Linked DNA regions of Homo sapiens. The protein of the gene in region 2 interacts with the protein of the main gene of each other region in a pairwise test. Each region holds a gene or a part of one and is shown on either strand. Other genes may lie near its edges.

What was found. The genes of interacting proteins can lie anywhere in the genome.
Region 1: the proteins of RAD52 (region 2) and RPA3 interact in binary tests that used the Homo sapiens proteins (3 or more experiments, as listed by UniProt).
Region 3: the proteins of RAD52 (region 2) and RDM1 interact in binary tests that used the Homo sapiens proteins (3 or more experiments, as listed by UniProt).

What each region holds. Positions count from the first base shown.
Region 1 is NC_000007.14:7,708,599-7,715,626, reverse strand, and holds part of RPA3 (replication protein A 14 kDa subunit), read left to right. Parts: intron 1-400; 5' UTR 401-452; intron 453-7,028. UniProt on the Homo sapiens protein: As part of the heterotrimeric replication protein A complex (RPA/RP-A), binds and stabilizes single-stranded DNA intermediates that form during DNA replication or upon DNA stress.
Region 2 is NC_000012.12:939,668-946,695, reverse strand, and holds part of RAD52 (DNA repair protein RAD52 homolog), read left to right. Parts: intron 1-7,028. UniProt on the Homo sapiens protein: Involved in double-stranded break repair. Plays a central role in genetic recombination and DNA repair by promoting the annealing of complementary single-stranded DNA and by stimulation of the RAD51 recombinase.
Region 3 is NC_000017.11:35,927,765-35,934,917, reverse strand, and holds the start of RDM1 (RAD52 motif-containing protein 1), read left to right. Parts: upstream 1-4,144; 5' UTR 4,145-4,190; coding exon 4,191-4,286; intron 4,287-4,618; exon of another isoform or gene 4,619-4,635; coding exon of another isoform or gene 4,636-4,662; coding exon 4,663-4,842; intron 4,843-7,153. Other genes in the region: LYZL6 (lysozyme-like protein 6 precursor), read left to right, coding at 53-122. UniProt on the Homo sapiens protein: May confer resistance to the antitumor agent cisplatin. Binds to DNA and RNA.

The DNA of each region.
Region 1 (7,028 bases), on a different chromosome or scaffold from region 2:
GCTATTGAAAAACTTTATCCTCATTTGAATGAAAACAGAGCTCTTCTTTGTATTGTTCATAATGGCATACCCAACACCCAGCACAGCACCTAGCACACAGAAATATTCAGATATTGTCGGAATGCATGAATGTTTATATAATTTCATGGAAGCATTAATTATTGAAATAAGAGTGCACTTCCCTAAGTTACTTATCAGGGAACTAGCTTTGGTTATCAGTAGCTTTGAGTTTCAGATTTGGGAAAAAATTCATTAAATTAGCTATTCTAACAGCTAGCTATAAGGTCTATGGTCAACTCTTCTGCTACTACTATTCACCAAGATCATTGATGAAACTGTATTCATAAATCTGGTGAAAACTTTTCAGTTCTTATCCTACTTGTAGTTCACTTTGTCTCAGGTACTCAGAAAAAGGATGTGAAGACAATGCACAGGGAATACAATAGTTTCAGGTAAGTTTATTTTCTTTAACTGTTTCTATGCTGAAGGTGCATATTAATGGTGAGATATTCTATAATTCAGAGTTCATCTCGTAAAACACTAAAAAAAAGTATTTTTTTTAAGTTCTAAGATTTGTGGATTTGCCTACAACAAAAAACTGCAGTTGGTTAGTTCTAGTTTCATTGCTGCCTATGGCAACTGTAATTCCTCTGTAGTTTTTTGTTGTTGTTGTTGTTGTTGTTTAATTCTAGTGCCCCTGTTCTGCTTAGTTCAACCACATGGTACAACAGGTCTGCAAGTGTTACTATCAACTAAAAAAAAAAAAAAAAAAAGAAAAATTTTTGAACAACCAGTTCATGAGGAAATAAAAAAATTACTCTACACAAGTGCCCAACACCCTAAATCCTGACTTTCTCCCAGCTTCCAACCTGTTACTTGCTTTAACCTTCCCCCAGGAAGGTTTTCAGCTGAGGCCTTTATTTGCAGTTAGGGACACCTGATGGAGTTCTAAGTCTTTCTTATGTAAGTCCAACATATAATACATTGTACACAACCTCCAACTGTTTTAAAGCAAATGAGAATTTAAAGATATTTACAAATCAATCTACCACTGATTCCTAGATCCTAAGTCATCTCACCCACACCTAAATTGACAGCTCCTTTTTTATTTTAGCAATTAAACTATATAGATTATTTCTAAAGCATTTAACAAAGTTTCGTAGCTATAAGTACTCCCTCTTTATTCATGTTTAAGTACAACCTCTTAATTCATATTTTAATTAAATCATGCAATTATAATAAACAAGTACATACATTTAGGAGCAAACAGCTTGACACTTCAGCAGCACTCTGCTGGAGCAGCCAAAGAAAGTCTGCTCATCAGAGAATAAACTAGATGCTGTCAACATCCAAGGATTTATAGAAAAGTTGGAAATGCTGGTCAATATGCAAAGTCATATAAGTGGAGGTCAGTTAAGACTGATATGCTTTTCTTTGAGAAAAGGCCATGAATCAAGTCTCAACACATTTCAGGAATTTCTATCATTTGTACCACCCTCTCTGACCACAGGACATTAAATTAAAAATCTTCATCAAAAAGATAACACACAAAAAAACTCAATTTTTGGAAATCTTAAAACATTTAAAAATAACTCAACAAAGAAGTATTGACGATGAAAAACGTGTGGGGCAGGTGTGGTGGCACATGCCTGTAGTCCCAGCTACTCAGGAGGCCAAGGCAGGAAGATCACTTGAGACTAGGAGGTCGAGGCTGCAGTGAGCTGTCTGTGGTCACACCACTGCACTCCAGCCTGGGTGACAGAGTGAGACCCTGCCTCTAGAAAAAATTTTTTTAATTTTTTGAAAAGAGAAAAATGTGCAAAATGACAAACGAATGGAAATAATACAAATTAAAATTTGGAAGCTGCTCAATAGCATTTAAAGGGAAATACAGGGCATTATTAATGAACATATTAGAATTTTTAAAAGCTTAAAAATGATGATCCAAGGACAAACAACCAACTTAAAAAGTCAAAATGAAACTAACAAAATAAACTCCAAAGAAAATGAAAAAGGAAATAATTAAGGTAAGAGCAAGAAATGATGAAACAGAAAATAAAATGCAAAAGAGGAACAATACATCCTAAAACTGGTCTTTTGAAAACACTAAGAAAATAAATAGTAAAGCAATAAATAAACAATATTGCCATGGGGGGGAGGAGCAGAACATAATGAAAATCCCAGAGATTAAAAAATGGTAAGAAGATATCATTTAAAAAAAAAAAAAACTCTGTCTATAAACTTAGATTTGTTTGTTTGTTTGTTTTTGTTTTGTTTTGTTTTGAGATGGAGTCTCACTCTGTCACCCAGGCTGGAGTGCAGTGGCGCAATCTCAGCTCACCACAACCTCCGCCTCCTGGGTTCAAGTGATTCTCCTGCCTCAGCCTCCTGAGTAGCTGGGACTACAGGTGCACGCCACCATGCCCAGCTAATTTTTTTTTTTTGTATTTTTAGTAGAAACAGGGTTTCACCATGTTGGTCAGGCTGGTCTCAATCTCCTGACCTTGTGATCTGCCTGCCTTAGCCTCCCAATGTGCTGGGATTATAGGTGTGAGCCACCGCGCGCGGCCCTAGAATATTTTTTGAATGAGCAATCACCTAGAAAAATATCTTACCAAATTGACACAATAGGCTAGTCTGCAATTATCAACAAATTCATTCGGTACATAAAAGCTACCCACTAAAGAAACACGAGGCCAAGATAATTTTTACAGGTGAATTCTATTAAAATCAAATCTTATACCAATTCTAACAACACTCTATGCCTATTATGTTTCTACAATAAGCCTTTAGCCAACCAGGAGCAACCCAAAAAAACAAAATGTATTGTATGTAGTAGTTCACAATTGCAAACATTATAAGCATTCTTTTTACAATCAAAAGTGGGGAAAAGATGTTTTCTTTGACACTTCTCTTCAACATACTAGAGGTCCTAGACCATGCAGTAAGACCAAAAGATAAAATGAAACCACAAGGATTTGAATGAAACAAAACTCACTATTCACAGAGGTTATAATTACGTACTTAGAAAATTCAAAAGAATCTAAAGATGAATTATGGGAAGTAAATATTTTATCAAGATGGTTGCTACAAGTATCAGCTACATGTTTCTATGCTGGCAACAAACAGAAAATACAACTTTAAAAATATTTACTATAATAATAAAACAAAAAAGCACTCTAAGAATAAATCTGACAAAAGCAGAAATGTGATTTTTATGAAAAATGCATGGCAATTTTACAAAAATGTATTAAGGAAACCTAAGCAAATGGACAGAAATATATTTCTGAAGAAGACTAAATATTGTAAATATAGCAATTCTCCCCTAAATTAATCTATATGTTCAATAAAATTTCAACAAAAATCACATCAGAGTGGGTAGGTTTGAGTGATTATCCATCTGTTATTCATTTTTTATTTATTTGGCATAAGATCAACTGATGCTTCATTATATAGAAAAGCAGAGAACAAAGGAAGGTTGAGATGGTTTTAAAGGATGGTAATATAATGAGCTTTATGACATTGGCTAAGAGAGAGAAAAATAGCCTCATAAAGTAGGAGAACCAAAGATACTATATATGTAAGAGTAAGCTTGGAAGATACGTGAAGAAAAGAAGATGAATTAATCCAAAATAGTACTAAGAAAATAGGTTATCCCTACAAAAAAAAATTAAAATCGGATCGCTATACCACACTATAACCAAAGTTAACCATAGAGCTATAAGAAGATGCTATAGGAAGATGACTTTCTGATCTCCAAGAAGGGACTTTTTAAATCAGACTGAAATATGAAAGTTAAGGAAAAGTTTTATATATTTTAAAACTGTCACATCAAAATGTCTCTTCATTAACAGATAAAAAGAAAAACATAAGTCATTAAAATGCAACAAAATTTGTAACTAGATCCCCTTAGAATCAACTTTTTAAATGACAGACAATACAGCAGGGAAAAGAGATCAATAGTGATTTTACTGAGCAAAAAAACCACATATGACTATTAAACATAAATAAAAATGTCCAATTCCATTATAAACAAGAAAATGTAAATTAAAAACACAAGATACCATTTTCTAACCAACAGACTGATAAAAATTTAAGTCTCACAGTATTACATGTTAAAAAGGATAGAGTATAATATCCTTGAAGTACAATATCCTTAAAAAGGATAGAGTATAATATGAAAAGGATAGAATTTTCATATACCACTTGGGAAAAAAATTTGCCATGATTTACTAAAGTTAACATGTGCATAGCCTGTAATTCCTCCCGGAAATAAAATCTAGAGGAAAGCTCACATATGTGCACCAGGAGACATGTACAAGGATGTTTGTAACAGCATCATGTTGTCTTTTAATTGAACTTTTTCAGATAATTCTAGATTCACAGGCAGATTGGAGAAATTATATGGAAATATCCCATGTAGCTTCTACCTGGTTTACCACAATGGCAACATCTTGCAAAACTATAGTTCAATACCACAACCAGGATATTTCATTCACACAGACCAGATACAGAACATCTCCATAACCACCAGAATCCCCAGTGTTATCCTTCTATAGCCACACACACTTGCCTCTAACTTTCACCCCATCCTTACCCACCGGCGACCAATGATTTCTCTATTTTTTGTGTACAGTTTGGTCATTTCAAGAATGCTACATAAATGAAGTCATACAGTACGTTACCTTTAGGGATTGGCTCTTTTCACTCAGCATAATTCTCTGGAGATTCATCCAGGTTGTTGTATATATCAACAGTTTGTTACTTCTTCTTGCTGAGTATTATTCCATGATATAGATATACCATAGATTTAACCATTCACCTGTTGAAGGATATTTGGTGTGTATCCAGTTTGGGTCTATTATGAATAAAATTGCTATAAATACTCAGTTTTATGCACATATACGTCTTCAATTTCTCTGGGATAAATGCCCAAAGTGTAATTGCTGAGTCGTATAGTAACTGCATATTCAGCTTTTCAGAAACTGTCTATTTTCCAGAGTAATTGTACCATTTTACATTCCTATCATCAATAAGTGATCCAGATTCTCTTCATCCTTACCAGCATTTGGTGTTATTACTATTTATTTTAGCTATTCTGATACAGGTTTGTAGAGACCTATCATTATGGTTTTAATTTGCATTATGGCTAATGACACTTATTCATGTGCTTATTTGCCATATGTATATCCTCTTCAGTGAAATGTCTCTTCATGTCTTTTGCCCATTTTCTAATTTGGTTTTATGTTTTTTTGTTTTTTGTTTTTTACTGCTGAGTTTTGCAAGTACTTATTCTAGGGACTAGTCCTTTCATTTTGGGCAATTTTTGCATAAAGTGTGAGACACAGATCAAGGTGTTTTGTTTTTTCTTCTGCCTACTAATGTTCAGTAACAGCACTGTTTTTAGGAAAACAAAACAAAACCCCAAATGTTCATCATCAGAACAGATATATAAATTGTGGTATATTCATCAATGGAATGTCAAATAAAAATGAAAGAACTAAAGATACATAGAGCAATATAGATGAGACCAGATACATGATACTGAGTGAGAGAGGCAAATTGCTGAAGAACATATTGTACATACATTGTGAGTGACTCGATTTATATATGGTTGTAAAACATACAAAACTACACATATGAAAAATATGTTAACACTATTTAAAAAGAGACCCCAAAAAAGCAGAATTTAAAGAGTGGAATTTACCTCTGAGGTGGGAGTAAGGAGAAGACTTAGAGAACTTCAAGGTTAACAAGAAATTATATTTCTTAAACCAATTGGTGGGTACACAGGTGTTCATCACATTGTCATTCTGAATATGTTCTCATTATTTAAAAAAAAAAACTTTAAAAGGTTATTTTTCAAATTGAGATTTGCATAAGCAAGAGCTAAGAATAATAGCTGGTAAGATGTCACTTTAAAGATCTTACCCTCAGCAGGTAAAAAAACAGTTATTATAAATTGTAATACAGGAACATACCAAACAGACCCTTGTTAGGGAAAGATGACTTCTGAGCAAACAGGTGACTTCTGACAAACCATTCTTATCCCACAAGCCTCATTTTGCCCTTGCAGGCTCAGCGCCTGACTTTTCTTTCAACTTCAAGTCCCCCAGTCATTCACCTTCTCTCCACACAGTTCCTTCTGCTTTGTTTTACAGCATTCTGCCCTCCTCGGGTGGCAATGCTTTAAGTCAACACCAACATCTGACCTCTCCAGCTTATCCACAGGACTTATCTTCTTAAGAGATGGTGTGAGGACAAAGGGTGAGCCTTCCTGACTTGAATTAATGACGACCCACAATTGAACAAGTTTCTAATGTTCATATTTACAAAGAATATAGTCTAGAATCTCAGTTAAATCCATATTAAAAGTAACCCCATGCATAACATTATTCACACATATAATTGAGATAAATCTCAGCACACAGATAGGAAAACAAAGACAGTCAATTTCAAACAACTAATAAAATTATTTAACCATTACAAAATCCCTTAACCATGCCGAATTTTGCAAAATATCTAAGAAATTATTATGCAAGACACTGAAAGATGTGTTATTAAGTAGTTAATTGGTATTTTTAATAGTTAGGACTGTTTTCCTCTTCTGTCTTCTCCTCCTCTCCTCTTTTCCTCCCACACTTTCTCCCTTCCTCTCCCTTTCTCTCTCTCTCCCTCTCTCTCTCTCACACACACACAGACACACAAACACAAACACACACCCCTTGCTGGTTAAAAACTTCTTAAAAACATACAACTGCCTGTATTTGTATATATACATATGCATTTGGTGTCTTGTTATAACTTCCCTTTAAACCACATATTAATGGGCAAAAAAAGTCCTAACATTCTATCTGTTGAAAAGCTGGGTCTGTCTCCAATAAACATAGTTGCTCGTTTCAGTCAAATCAGCTTATTTACTAATTATAAAATATAATTTTAAGATGGCCAAAACGAAGTAGTAGGAAAAGTATATTACTACTTTAATGGAATTTGCTTCTATTTTTGAGGTCTGTCCCAAAAGGACA
Region 2 (7,028 bases):
AGTGCCATGTTTTTTTGTATTTTTGTGCTTTTGGTGATTTTGCTGTTTATAGGGGCCTCCAAGAATAGAAGTGCTGTCTAGCATTTCCAAGTTGAAGGCTGTGATATATCTTATAGAGAAAAGATAAGCTTTTAGATTAGCTTTGTTCAGGCATCACTTTTGTTGTTGGCTGTGAGTTCATGTTACTGCATCAACAATATATATTAAATAAGATATCTTTAAACAGAAGCACACATAAAACAAGGTTATGTATTGGCCTGTTGAGTAACCCTGTATTTCCCCTGGGAGCAGTGGCTCAGTATTTGCTAGTTCAGTGTTCATGATGGCTTTACAGGACATAACTACCCTGAATAATGAGAACTGACTGTCTCAGTAGTGCTTCAAGGGCAGAAAGCCTAGTGGATATTTTTCCATCTCTGCAGCTTTTAGCATTTCTTCACTCAAGGCACTCATTTTTAATATTGAACTGGCAGTTTTGATGTGGAGAGAAGCTAAAATAAGGCTAAAATGCTCTTCATACTATGTGCTGAGTGGGGACTGTGCTGAGTGTTGGGGATTCAGTGATTAGTGTATGGCCCCGCAGTTCTCTAATGGCTGAGTGTGGGAGTGCAGAGAAATGATCAGTGTGAGGGAATTAATCCTATGTTCCCACCGTGTTTTTTTGTTTTTTTTGAGACGGAGTTTCACTCTTGTCGCCCAGGCTGGAGTGCGGTGGCGTGATCTCGGCTCACTGCAACCTCCGTCTCCCAGGTTCAAGCGATTCTCCTGCCTCAACCTCCCGAGTAGCTGGGATTACAGGTACCCGCCACCGTGCCCAGCTAATTTTTGTATTTTTAGTAGAGACGGAGTTTCACCATGTTGGCCGGGCTGGTCTCGAACTCCTGACCTCATGATCTGCCTGCCTCGGCCTCCCAAAGTGCTGGGATTACTGGGTTCCCACAAATTTTAAGACTTACTTCAGGCCAGGTGTGGTGGCTTATGCCTGTAATCCCAGCATTTTGGGAGGCCGAGGTGGGCAGATCACCTGAGGTCAGGAGTTCGAGACCAGCCTGGCCAACATGGTGAAACCCCTGCCTCTACTAAAAGTACAGAAAATTAGCTGGGTGTGGTCGCGCATGCCTGTAGTTCCAGCTACTCAGGAGGCTGAGGCACCAGAATCACTTGAACCTGGGAGGTGGAGGTTGCAGTGAGCTGAGATTGCGCCACTGTACTCCAGCCTGGGCAACAGAGTGTCTCCCCCTCAAAAAAAAAAAGACATACTTCAGAGTGTGGTGAGCTGCATAAGGCTTTAGAGGTAATGACATTTTGAGATTTCAATTAAAAATTTTTTTTCTACTTTTTTTTTTTGAGACAGAGTCTCACTCTTGCTCAGGCTAGAGTGCAGTGGTGCGATCTTGGCTCACTGCAACCTTCGCCTCCTGGATTCAAGCGATTCTTGTGCCTTAGCCTCCTGAGGAGCTGAGATTACAGGCACCTGCCACCATGCCCAGCTAATTTTTGTATCTTTAGTAGAGAAGAGGTTTCATCATGTTAGCCGGGCTGGTCTTGAACTCCTGACCTCAGGTGATCTGTCTGCATTGGCCTTCCAAAGTGCTGAGATTACAGATGTGAGCCACCGTGCCTGGCCACTTTTTTTCTACTTTTGCTAATTTTTTTAAAGTTTCATGAACATTATAGTACTGTGTTCATAAATGAAAATAAAAGAAACTTGCTCCAGTCTTGTTCATCAAGCCGTTCTTGACCTTCACAGTCAGAATCTCACCCATCACCTTGTCACATCTCCCTCTTGATCTGTATATCCAGAGTCCACCTGACATGCTTCTTCAGCCCTCCACATATAATAAGAAATGGTTTTGTGAGCCGAGATTGTGCCATTGCACTGCAGCTTGGGCAACAGTGTGAGACTCCTCAAAAAAAAAAAAAAAGAAAGAAAAATGCTTTTAGGTGATAAGGAAATGGAGAAGAATAAAACATCTTTGCCAGTCTTTACCTTTTTAATATCTTGAATTCATGATTTCTTGCCATAGCCACTATCCTAGTCCAGGCTCTCTCCCTTCTACCCCTGAGTTTTTTTTTTTTTTTTTTTTACCATGTTTTTATTTCCTCTGGGAAAACACCTATCAGAATTTTGGGATCATATGACAGATACATATTTAATTTCTTTCTTTCTTTTTTGAGACAGGGTCTTCCTCTGTTGCCCAGGCTGGAGTGTAGTGGTATGATCATGGCTCACTGCAGCCTTGACCCCTTCCTCGCCCCCGCTCAAGTGATCCTCCCACCACAGCTTCCTGAGTAGCTGGGACTGCCGGCATGCTCCACCATGCCCGACTAACGTTTTGCTGCTTGTAGAGACAGCCATGTTCCCTAGGCTTGTCTTGAACTCCTGAGCCTCAAGCGATCCTTCCACTTCAGCCTCAAGTGCTGGGATTACAGGCGTGAGCCACCACTCCTGGCTACTTAATTTCTTTCTTTCTTTTTTTTTGAGACAGTCTCGTTCTGTCACCCAGGCTGGAGTGCAGTGGGGTGATCTCTTCTCACTGCAGCCTCTACCTTCCAGGCTGAAGCAAGCCTTCCACCTCAGCCCCCTGAGTAGCTAGGACTACGGGAACATTCCACCAGGCCCAGCTAATTTTTGTATTTTTTGTAGAGATGGAGTTTCATGATGTTGGCCAGGCTGGTCTTGAACTCCTCACCTCATGCAATCCGCCTGCCTCAGCCTCCCAAAGTGCTGGGATTACAGGTGTGAGCAACTGCACCCAGCGGGCCCCGCCCAGACCTATTTTCAAAATTAGAAAACCGTGAGGCTTCTGGAAGAAGATGAGAAGAATATCTTCATGACCTGAGTGTGTGCAAAGGTTTCTTAGGGCTCAGGATGCCAGAGTCACTTAAAAAAGCAAAAAAAACCCAAAAAAAAAACCACACACACAAAGATAAATATGATTGATTACATCAAAATGTAATCACAGACTACTCTAAGAAAATGAATGGGGAAACACAGGGACCTATTTGACAAAAGACTGATATTCAAGATAAATAAAGAACTAATAGGCCAGGCGCGGTGGCTCACGTCTGTAATCCTGGCACTTTGGGAGGCCGAGGCGGGGGGATCACTTGAGCTCAGGAGTTCGAGACCAGCCTGAGCAATATAGTGAAACCCCATCTCTACTAAAAATACAAGAATTAGAATTAGCTGGGCGTGATGGCACGTGCCTGTAGTCCCAGTTACTCGGGAGGCTGAGGCTGGAGAATTGCTTCAGTCAGGAAGATGGAGGTTGCAGTGAGCCGAGATTGTGCCACTGCACTCCAGCCTGGGCGACTGAACAAGACTTCGTCTCAAAAAACCAGTAGGGCTCCAGGCCTGGGATTGGGCCTCTGCTGCTCTACTCCCTGGACGTGTGGCTCCGTCCTTGGAGTCGGCCTTTGGTTTTCATGAAGAGTAGTGTGCATTAACAGCTGAGTGGTTTTATCAGCCTGTTTCCTGCCAACAGTGTATGAGAGTTCCAGTTGCTTTACATCCTTGCCAGCATTTGGTGTTGTCAGTCTTTTGAGTTATTCTGATGGGTGTGGTGTGTCATGGTCTTAATTTTAGTCCTCAGTCACTAATGGTGTTTAGCACTTTTTCCTGTGCCCATGACAATGTGCATCTTCCTTTGTGAAGTGCCTGCTCAAATCTTTTGCCCATTTTACATTGGGTTGTGTGTCTTTTTATTATTGAGTTGTAGCAGTTATTTATATAACCTTTATATCCTGGTTACCTGTCCTCTGTCTGGTTGCCTATTCATTTTCTTAGAGTTGTCTGATGAACAGAAGTTTTACATTTTGATGTAATCAGTTTTCTCTTATATTTTCTTTTATAGTTACTGCTTTCTGAGTCCTAGGAAATCTTGGCTACCTTCAGGCTGTGAAGATAATCTTTCATGTTTTCTTCTGTAAGTTTTTTTTTTTTTTGAGACAGAGTCTTGCTCTGTCGTCCAGGCTGGAGTGCGGTGATGGCGATCTCCGCTCACTGCAACCTCTGCCTCCCAGGTTCAAGCGATTCTCCTGCCCCAGCCTCCCGAGTAGCTGGGATTACAGACATGCGCCACCATGCCCAACTAATTTTTGTATTTTTATTAGAGACAGGGTTTCACCAGGTTGGCCAGGTTGGTCTTGAACTCTTGACCTTGTGATCCACCCGCCTCGGTCTCCCAACATGCTGGGATTATAGGCGTGAGCCACCGTGCCCGGCCTATAAATTTTATAGTTTTAGTTTTATGTTTAAGCCTATCACCCATTTCTAGTTTAGGTGAATGGTGTGAGATATAATTAAATATTAATTTCTTTTCCATATAGATATCCAGTCATTCCAGCACCATTTGTTGAAAATGCTATTGTATTGCGTTTTGGAAATTAAGATGACTGTACAAATGGTAATTGATGTCTGCACTCCCTTTTCTGTTCCATTGTTCAATCCTTGTGTTAGTACCACACTTTTAATTACTGTAGCTTTTTAGTAAGTCTTGAAGTCATGTAGTTGTAGGTCTTCCAATTTTGTTGTTTTCAAGCTTGATGTGAATATTCTAAATCCTCTGCATTTCCATATAAATATCAGAATTATCTTTACCAGTTTTACAGAAAAGTCTGGTAAAGTTGTGATTGGGATTGCATTGAATCTATGGATCAATTTGGAAAGAAATGACACCTAAACAGTATTGAGTCTTCAAATATATGAACTTGGTGCATTTTCCTTCTTATTTAAGCCTTTTAAAATTTCTTTTTAGGCCGGGTGCAGTGGCTTATGCCTGTAATCCCAGCACTTTGGGAGTCTGCAGCGGGCAGATCAGCTGAGGTCAGGAGTTCGAGACCAGCCTGGCCAACATGGTGAAACCCCGTCTCTACTAAAAATACAAAAATTAGCCAGGTGTGGTGGCAGGTGCCTGTAGTCTCAGCTACTTGGGAGGCTGAGGCAGGAGAACTGCTTGAACTTGCTCAGGAGGTGGAGGTTGCAGTGAGCTGAGATAGTGCCATTGCACTCCAGCCTGGGCAACAAGAGCAAAACTCTGTCTCAAAAAATAATAATAATAAAAATAAAAATTTTGGGCCAGGTGTGGCGGCTCACACCTGTAATCCCAGCAATTTGGGAGGCTGAGCCGGGTGGATCACCTGAGGTCAGGAGTTTGAGACCAGCCTGACCAACATGGAGAAACCCTGTCTCTACGAAAAATACAAAATTTGCCAGGCATGGTGGCGCATGCCTGTAATCCCAGCTACTCTGGAGGCTGAGGCAGGAGAATCACTTGAACCTGGGAGGCAGAGGTTGCAGTGAGCCGAGATGGTGCCATTGCACTCCAGCCTGGGCAACAAGAGTGAAACTCTGTCTCAAAAAAAAAAAATTCTTTTAGTTCTGTTTTATGGTTTTCAGTTCAGAAGTCTTATACATATTTTGTTAAATTGATTTCTAGATATGTTTCTTACCTTTATTGTAAAATGGAGCCATCATTTGCATCATTCATTACTCTGTATGTAATGTGTTATCATTCTCTACCTGCTTTCAAGATTTTCTCTTTATTTTTGTTTTTTAGCAGTTTGTCTGTGGTGTATCTAGGTGTCATTTTATTTGTATTTATCCGGAGATTTATTCTTGAGATTTGCAGAGCTTCTTAAATCTGTAAATTTATGTCTGTCGGCCAATTTGGGAAATTTGGAGCTATTAGTTTTAAAAATATTTCTTCTGTTCCATTCTCTTTCACTTCTTCTGTATGTGAGTTCAATTTCACTTCAATTGTATGTGAGTTAGACATTTTGATATTAGCCCACAGGATCCTGAGGTTCTTTCATTCTTTTCAATCTTTTTTTTTTCTCGAAGTTTGCATTTCGTGAGCAGGAGTGACAGTCATTCAGGATGATTTTTGAGATTCCTAGTTCAAGAGTAGTTCCTATTCTTTTCTAGGTGTAGTCAAGTATGGCTTCTAATTCTACTAGAAGGCTTTTTTGTCGGGGAGGTGGTTCTATGTCCTTTGGCTCTTACATTTTCTTTGTGTCTTTCACAGCACAGTTTTCAGAGGGTACCCTTTCTCTTTGGTTTTGTTTTGTTTTGTTTTGTTTTAGACGGAGTCTTGCTCTGTCTCCAGGCTGGAGTGCAGTGGCGCAATCTTGGCTCACTGCAACCTCTGCTCACTGCTACCTCTGCCTCCCGGGTTCAAGCAATTCTCCTGCCTCAGCTTCCTGAGTAGCTGGGACTACAGGCACGCGCCACCACACCCAACTAATTTTTGTATTTTTAGTAGAGACTGGGTTTCATCATGTTGGCAAGGCTGTTCTCCATCTCTTGACCTCGTGATCCGCCCGCCTTGGCCTCCCAAAGTGCTAGGATTACAGGCGTGAGCCACCGCGCCCGGCCAACAGAGGGTACCCTTTCATTCTTTTTCTCCTTCTTCCCAGAAGGCTTGCGTTTTCAAGACTACCTCATCAAGTTCTGCATGTGTTTAAAAGTGTCTCTACCCGACCTTCCCTTCCTCCCTCCCGATTTAACGGAATTCTTTGTTGGTGTTTTCATACTTACCGTGAGTTTTCTTTTTCAGGGTGATATTTTAGTTCCATCTTAGGCTCTCCATTGTCCTCTTCTCTCTTCTTTTTTTTTTTGAGACAGAGTCTCATTCTGTCACCCAGGCTGGAGTGCAGTGGTGTGATCTCTGCTCACTGCAACCTCTGCCTCCCAGGTTCAAGTGATTCTCCTGCCTCAGCCTCCCGAATAGCTGGGATTACAGGCGCACACAACCACGCCCACCTAATTTTTGTATTTTCAGTAGAGACGGGGTTTCACCATCTTGGCCAGGCTGGTCTCAAACTCCTGACCTCGTGATCCGCCTGCCTCAGCTTCCCAGAGTGCTGGGATTACAGGCATGAGCCACCGCGCCCGGTGCGCCCAGCCCTCTTCTCTCTTCTTTGCATCTCTCTTCCTATCTGGATCCCTCTTTGCTGTCCTTAAAGAGCTGAGATGAGAGATTGAGAAACATCTCTACAAGAAATTGACGTTTTTCTACTTATGG
Region 3 (7,153 bases), on a different chromosome or scaffold from region 2:
TGTGGAAGAGTTACTGAGTGTGAGGCAAGAACCATGTCTTTTTTCTCCGCAGGGTAGAATGGAGGTTGCACTGTTCAGGCCGGCCACTCTTCTACTGGCTGACAGGATGCCGCCTGAGATGAAACAGGGTGCGGGTGCACCGTGGAGTCATTCCAAGACTCCTGTCCTCACTCAGGGATTCTTCATTTCTTCTTCCTACTGCCTCCACTTCATGTTATTTTCTTCCCTTCCCATTTACAACTAAAACTGACCAGAGCCCCAGGAATAAATGGTTTTCTTGGCTTCCTCCTTACTCCCATCTGGACCCAGTCCCCTGGTTCCTGTCTGTTATTTGTAAACTGAGGACCACAATAAAGAAATCTTTATATTTATCGAAATATTAAAGCACTCGCTCTGCAAAGACTGTGTCCATTTATTCATTAGTCTACATATATTTGAGTACCTAAGACAGTGGGAGTGTACTAGGTAGTAGAAGGAAGACAAAACACAGCTATTGTTGTTTAGGTGTTCATAATCTAGGTGGAGAAGCAGAGACATCCACAAACATTACAATAGGTAATTAAATGTATAGTAAAATCCATAATTATTGCTTTGAAACAGTATCAGCATCCAAGTAATTCCTCCAAAGAACAATTTTTGAAGTAAAAGAGAAAACTCAGAAGTAGGCAATGGGTGGGGTCTGGTATTGATGTGGAGAAAGTAGTGATGGGATGGAGAAATAGTGGCAGATACCAATAATTTGGGGGTGCTTTGGGAGAATAAGCTAGGATCTAGATGATTAAAAAAAGGTGCTCTGGACAGGATCTGGTTTGCCTGGAGGGTGCTGAGGTGGAGTAGAACATGCTTAAAGAAAAGGCAAAATCAGAAAAGTGACAGTTGAAGGAATGTCCTACACATAGCCACCGTCAGTAGTGTCTGACCAATCTGGGGTTTTATCTTGGACCACTTATTTCTCTACCACTGAGCCTTAGCTGTTTCTACTATAGAAGGAGGGATTTGACTATTCAGTAGTTGCCAGACTTTTGTATTTCACAGGTGATAAAATGTAAAAAATAATTAAACCTGAGATTTCTTTCTTTTTTTTTTTTTTTTGAGACAGAGTCTCACTGCGTAGCCCAGGCTGGAATGCAATGGCAGGATCTTGGCTCACTGCAACCTCCAACTCCCAAGCTCAAGCAATTCTCCTACCTCAGCTTCTCAAGTAGGTGGGACTACAAGTGTGTGCTACTACACCCAGCTAATCTTTTTTTTTTTTTTTTTTGAAATGGAGTCTCACTCTGTCACCCAGGCTGGAGTGCAGTGGCATGATCTCCACTCACTGCAACCTCCGCCTCCTGGGTTCAAGCAATTATCCTGCCTCAGCCTCCCCAGTAGCTGGGATTACAGGCGCCCCCCGACCACACCCGGCTAATTTTTGTATTTTTAGTAGAGACGGGGTTTCACGGTGTTGGCTAGGCTGGTCTCGAACTCTTGACCTCAGGTGATCCACCCACCTCAGCCTCCCAAAGTGCTGGAATTACAGGCATGAGCCACCGTGCCCAGCTATTTTGTATTTTTAGTAGAGACAGGGTTTTACCACGTTGGCCAGCCTGGTCTCAAACTCCTGACCTCAAGTAATCCATCTGCCTCGGCCTCCCAAGTGCTGGGATTATGGATGTCAGGCACCAGGCCCGGCCGAGGTTTCTAATTTTTAATTTTAATGTCCAAGTAAGAGCATTAAAGCAACTATCCTCTATTAGCATCTTTTCATAGAAAAATTTTTAGTATCAACATTATAGGGAGGTCATACTTGTAGAAGAATGGAGTGGAATCTACTTTATTTTATGAAATTATAAAAAACCTGATTATATTTTCCATATGGTCCTCATTTTGTAGAGTAGGGGTGAAAACTTTATCACAGCATGAGTCTGAGGATCATTATTCAGAAATCACAAGAGACTTGTCCTGTAGGGTCTCTTCTGGCTCTGACATTCTAGGATTAAAATAAACAGTAGTAGGACTCACTTTACTTCTTGTGTTACTGAAACTGCCTTTATAAAAATTATGACAAATCTGACCTAACTGATTCCATTTTGCTTCTAACCTCCAAGCTGCCCTTGCTCATTCCTGGGCACAGGCCAAGCTAACTATGAGAGGAATTTTTGCTGCTTAACTTTGAAACAAAGATAATAGTCCCTTCCTGAAACAAACCACCTCCCTGCTTGGGAATCAGATCTCCTCTGTAAAACTAACAAATTAGCCACAAGATTAGAAATTATGGCTCAGAAATTATGTAGACAGAGGCCACAAGATTCCTAACCTCTCCAGTTGCTCCTATACAAAACACTGTTGTAGTCTCAGCAATGCACCAAGATATAACACTCTGTAGTTGTCTGATATAACCCCCGGAGTTCTTTGTCCTACCTCCAAGATGATTAAGGAGCGTGGACACAAAGGTGGGGTTACAGCAAAAGTTTAATAAGCGAAAGAAGAAAGCTCTCTGCCAGCAGAGCGTGGGGGCCAGAACGGGTGTCCCCTGTGAGGCTGGGGTCTTTATGGACTGGGAAGGGGAAGCAATGTGCTTAGTCCGACAGCTGTCTTGGAGAACTCAGCTTGGCAAGGAGCCTTGGCCCAGGACCAATCAGGAGCTGAAATGATTCTTAGATGCTGCTTAGCTTGGCCCAAGACCTATCAGGGGCTGAAGTGATGATTCATAGAGGCTGGACTTACAGGTCCAAAAAGGAAAGTAGAGTGCCCACTGGAACTCACCGGAGCCCACTATGCCCATGCCCACAAAAGTAGAAGCAACTTCATCCTGGGAGCCCACTGACTATACAAAGGACAAAGGCATTTCTATGCCAGGCCTTGTTCTTTTGTCTGAGTGAGCTGAAGTTTTGTGCAAGCTTTTATCCAAATGGGCCAGAGGTTTTTCCATCTGTGCAGCCGTGGGCATGTCTCCAGGCACAACACCCTATGCTAGTTCTCTTATGGGTGCTGGTAGCTTGAATTTTTTCCCAGGCTGCTTTTTATGTTATGTGGGGGTAAGGCACTGACCCTGTGAGCCGGGATCTCTCCGGGGACCCTTCCCTTGCTTTGTGTCCAAGCTAACTAACTGCTTTCAACATTACTATTGTAAAACCTAATATTGGGGTTCTAGGTATTTTTCAGACCCTTCATTCTGATGGACCAGCTGGCACCACTCACATGGGCAAACTGGCTCATCTGGTCTTGCGGCCCCCAACCAGGAATTCACTCAGCACAAGAACACAAGCTCTGACTCTCTATGATTTCATCCTTGACCCAACCAGTCAGCATTTCCTATTCCCTGGCCCCCTGACTGCCAAATTACCCTTTAAAAAACACCAGCTTCCAAATTTTCAGGGAGGCTAAGTTGAGTAATAGTAAAACTCCAGTCTTCTATTTAGCTGGTTCTGTGCTTATGAAACTCTTTGCCTATTTCAATAACACTGTCTCAGTAAATCAGCTTTTCTGGGCAGTGGGTATGATGAACCCACCAGTTGATTACACTCCTCCACCACGTAGCTGATTATGACACCTACCCTTCTCAGACACCATCAGCTCCAATGTTGGTGCCTTATTTGGACTTATTCTTTGTGGGTTTGTTTGTTTGTTTGTTTGTTTTTCTTTTTTCAAAATTAATCTCTCCTTCTCACTCGTACCTCCAACCTCTCACATCATCTGACCCCCACAAGTACACATACACGATTCACCAGAATGACGTAGGACAATCAGGGAATTCTTTTTAAGGATTTCATGCGAGACTGTTAATGGTTTAGTGAGTTATACTTTTATTTGCAATTTTAAACTCTTAAAAAAACCTCTTAAGTCAAAAGATTGCATCTTTCGTGGTTATTTCCCACAAGTGCTAATACTTAGTACCCTAATCTCCTTCAGGAGTGAAGATGAAGCTGGCTTCTATAAACACGTCCCTACCCTTCCATCCTGTCAGCCTATTTTGGGACTTTACCCTAAACATGCATTGAACGGAAGCTCTAAACTCAGGGATCTTGTGGCTGTGACTGGAGGAGGGGAACAGACTCAGAGGCTGGCCCTAGGTAGGAGGGGCAAGGGAGCGATCCGAGCCCCGTCCCCGCCCCTCGCATGCGCCTCTTTTTAAAAAAGCGCGGGCGTGCCTTGCGCAGGCGCAATGCTGGGGCGAGGGTTAGCCGCGCAGGTGCGGTGAAGGGAGGATGGCGGAGTTGGTACCTTTTGCGGTTCCCATCGAGAGTGACAAAACCTTGCTAGTGTGGGAGCTGAGCTCCGGACCCACGGCCGAGGCTTTGCATGTGAGCCGGGGCCAGGATGGAGGGAGGGATGGAGAAAGCTGCCCACCCGCTGACTGGGAGTTCCGGAGTCCTGCCTCAGACCCTCACCTGCCTGAGCCTCCGCTGAAGGACTCTTAATTATAAAGGGGATCCCAACTGACAACTGACGACCCCCAACAGATTTTTAGAGTCCCGGAGAGGTATCTCTCCACCTTCAGAACGTTTTACCTTCCAGTGCTTCTTAAAGTTTAGGATTTTAAGAGGAAAACCTGTTGATTAAGTGGGAAGTGTTTTGAATCGCATCCTTCGCGAAGAGAGGTTTGGGGAATATGAGGGCATGTGCGGTTTTGTTTTCTGGGCGTGAGATTTCATGCATTTACTTGTCCCACCCCCACAGCATTCTCTGTTCACAGCATTTTCTCAGTTTGGCCTTCTGTATTCAGTCCGGGTCTTCCCAAATGCTGCAGTGGCCCATCCTGGTTTCTATGCCGTCATTAAGTTTTATTCTGCAAGGGCTGCCCACAGAGCCCAAAAGGCATGCGACCGGAAGCAGCTTTTTCAGAAATCTCCAGTCAAGGTGGGTCCAAATATGGAATTCCTAGCTCCGCTGAAATGAAGTGCTGAATTCAATAATAGGTTAGCATTTGTCCAGCACGCTGGTTTACAGAATATTTTCAGATGCATTGCCACACTAATCTTCCAGTTCTCTGGGTTTTTTACATGAAGAAACTCAAACTCAAGGTGGTTGAGCGACTTGTTTAAGGTTCCTGACAAGAATTATGGAAACTCGAGATTGAACTAAAACCTACTGATGCTAAACCTCATGTCATTTTATGCTGTCCCTTTTTAAGAAATCTCAGCTTGGGCAACAAAATGAGACCCCATCTCTATAAAAAAAATTGTAAAGATAAGGCTGGGCACCGTGGCTCATGCCTGTAATCCCAGCACTTTGGGAGATCGAGGCGGGCTGATCACTTGAGGCCAGCAGTTTGAGACCAGCCTGGGCAACATAGCAAAACTCCATCTGTACTATAAATACAAAAACTAGCCGGGCATGGTGGCATGCGCCTGTAGTCCCAGCTACTCGGGAGGCTGAAGCATGGGAATTACTTGAACCCAGGAGGTGGAGGCTGCAGTGACCCGAGATTGTGCCACTGCACTCTAGCCTGGGTGACAGAGTGAGACTCCATCTCAAAAAAAGAAAGAAAGAAAAATAAAAAATTAAATATCAGCCAGATGTGGCATGCACCTGTAGTCCCAGCTACTTGGGAGACTGAGGTGGGAGGATCGCTTGAGCCCAGGAGTTTGAGGATGCAGTGAGCAATAATTGCATCACTGCACTCCTGCCTGGGCCACAGAGTGAAACCCTATCTCTAAAAAATGACTGAATGAATGAAATCTTTGCCAGAAGACTTCTGCTTATATTTACTTTTTAATTTTTTTAGAGACAGAGTATCCCTGTGTTGCCCAGGCTGGTCTCTAAATCCTGGCCTCAAGCAGTCCTCCTGCCTCAGCCTCTTAAGTAGCTAGGTACAGGCCACCATGCCCAGCTATATTTACTTTTTATTTTTATTTTTTGAGATGGAGTCTCATTTTGTCACCCAGGCTGGAGAGCAGTGGCATGATCTTGGCTCACTGCAACCTCTGCCTTCCGGGTTCAAGTGATTCTCCTGCCTCAACCTCCTGAGTAGCTGGGACTACAGGCGCCTGCCACCACACCTGGCTAATTTTTGTATTTTAGTAGAGATGGGGTTTCACCATGTTGGCCAGTCTGGTCTCGAATTCCTGACCTCAAGTGATCCACCCACCTCAGCCTCCCAAAGTGCTGGGACTACAGGTGTGAGCCACTGTGCCCAGCCATATATTATATATTTACTTTTTTTTTTTTTAAAGACAGAGTTTCGCTCTTGTTGCCCAGGCTGGAGTGCAATGGTGTGATCTCAGCTCACCACAACCTCCGCCTCCCGGGTTCAAGCGATTCCCCTGCCTCAGCCTCCCAAGTAGCAGGGATTACAGGCATGCACCACCACGCCTGGCTGATTTTGTATTTTTGGTAGAGATGGTGTTTCTCCATGTTGGTCAGGCTGGTCTCGAACTCCTGAACTCAGGTGATCTACCCGCCTCAGCCTCCCAAAGTGCTGGGATTACAAGCGTGAGCCACCGCGCCCAGCCTATATATTTAGTTTTATGTGAATTTAAAATGTGTGGGTGTGACCAGGTCTTCTGCCAGCTGTTACATAAAGGAGACTGTATCATCATCATCACATCATCATCATCATACTCACCATGGCTCACAAACTGCCTGTTTGAAACTCCCTTCAGTTCTGAGAGGATGGGAACATTCTTTAAGCGGTATTGTAGAAACCCTATTCCATATTAACATGCCAACCAATTTTACTTTCCCAGAGCCACAGAATGATATCTCATTGTATGCCTCAATTCAGTCATCTTTCCCTTTTCAAGGACCATTTCAATTCCTGATTGGCTACTTGATCTGACTGCTTCCTACTAATCTTGCTGCCTATTCTTCTCTATATTCCATTCCTCATTGAATTAACCTTGATCAAATCTGAGAACTCTGCTTAGTAATGACTCCAGGTATACTACTCCCACTTCAGTAGCCTGTTCAATGCCCTCTTAGCCTGTTCAACACCCTCTTCAATCCTGGTTCCACTTTCTGTGACTGAAATGATTACCTGTGAGATATTATTTAACTTTTGAACTATGGTCTGTTTCTAACCTGTGACCATTTCACATAGCCACTCAAATATTATAAAGGTACAACTAAGATTATGAAACATTTACTTGGTATCATTTTGCAAATAATGAGTTTTTAGTGCTCTTTGGACATTGAGACCATTTCATAAGCTTTAGGTTTTGAGAATTTC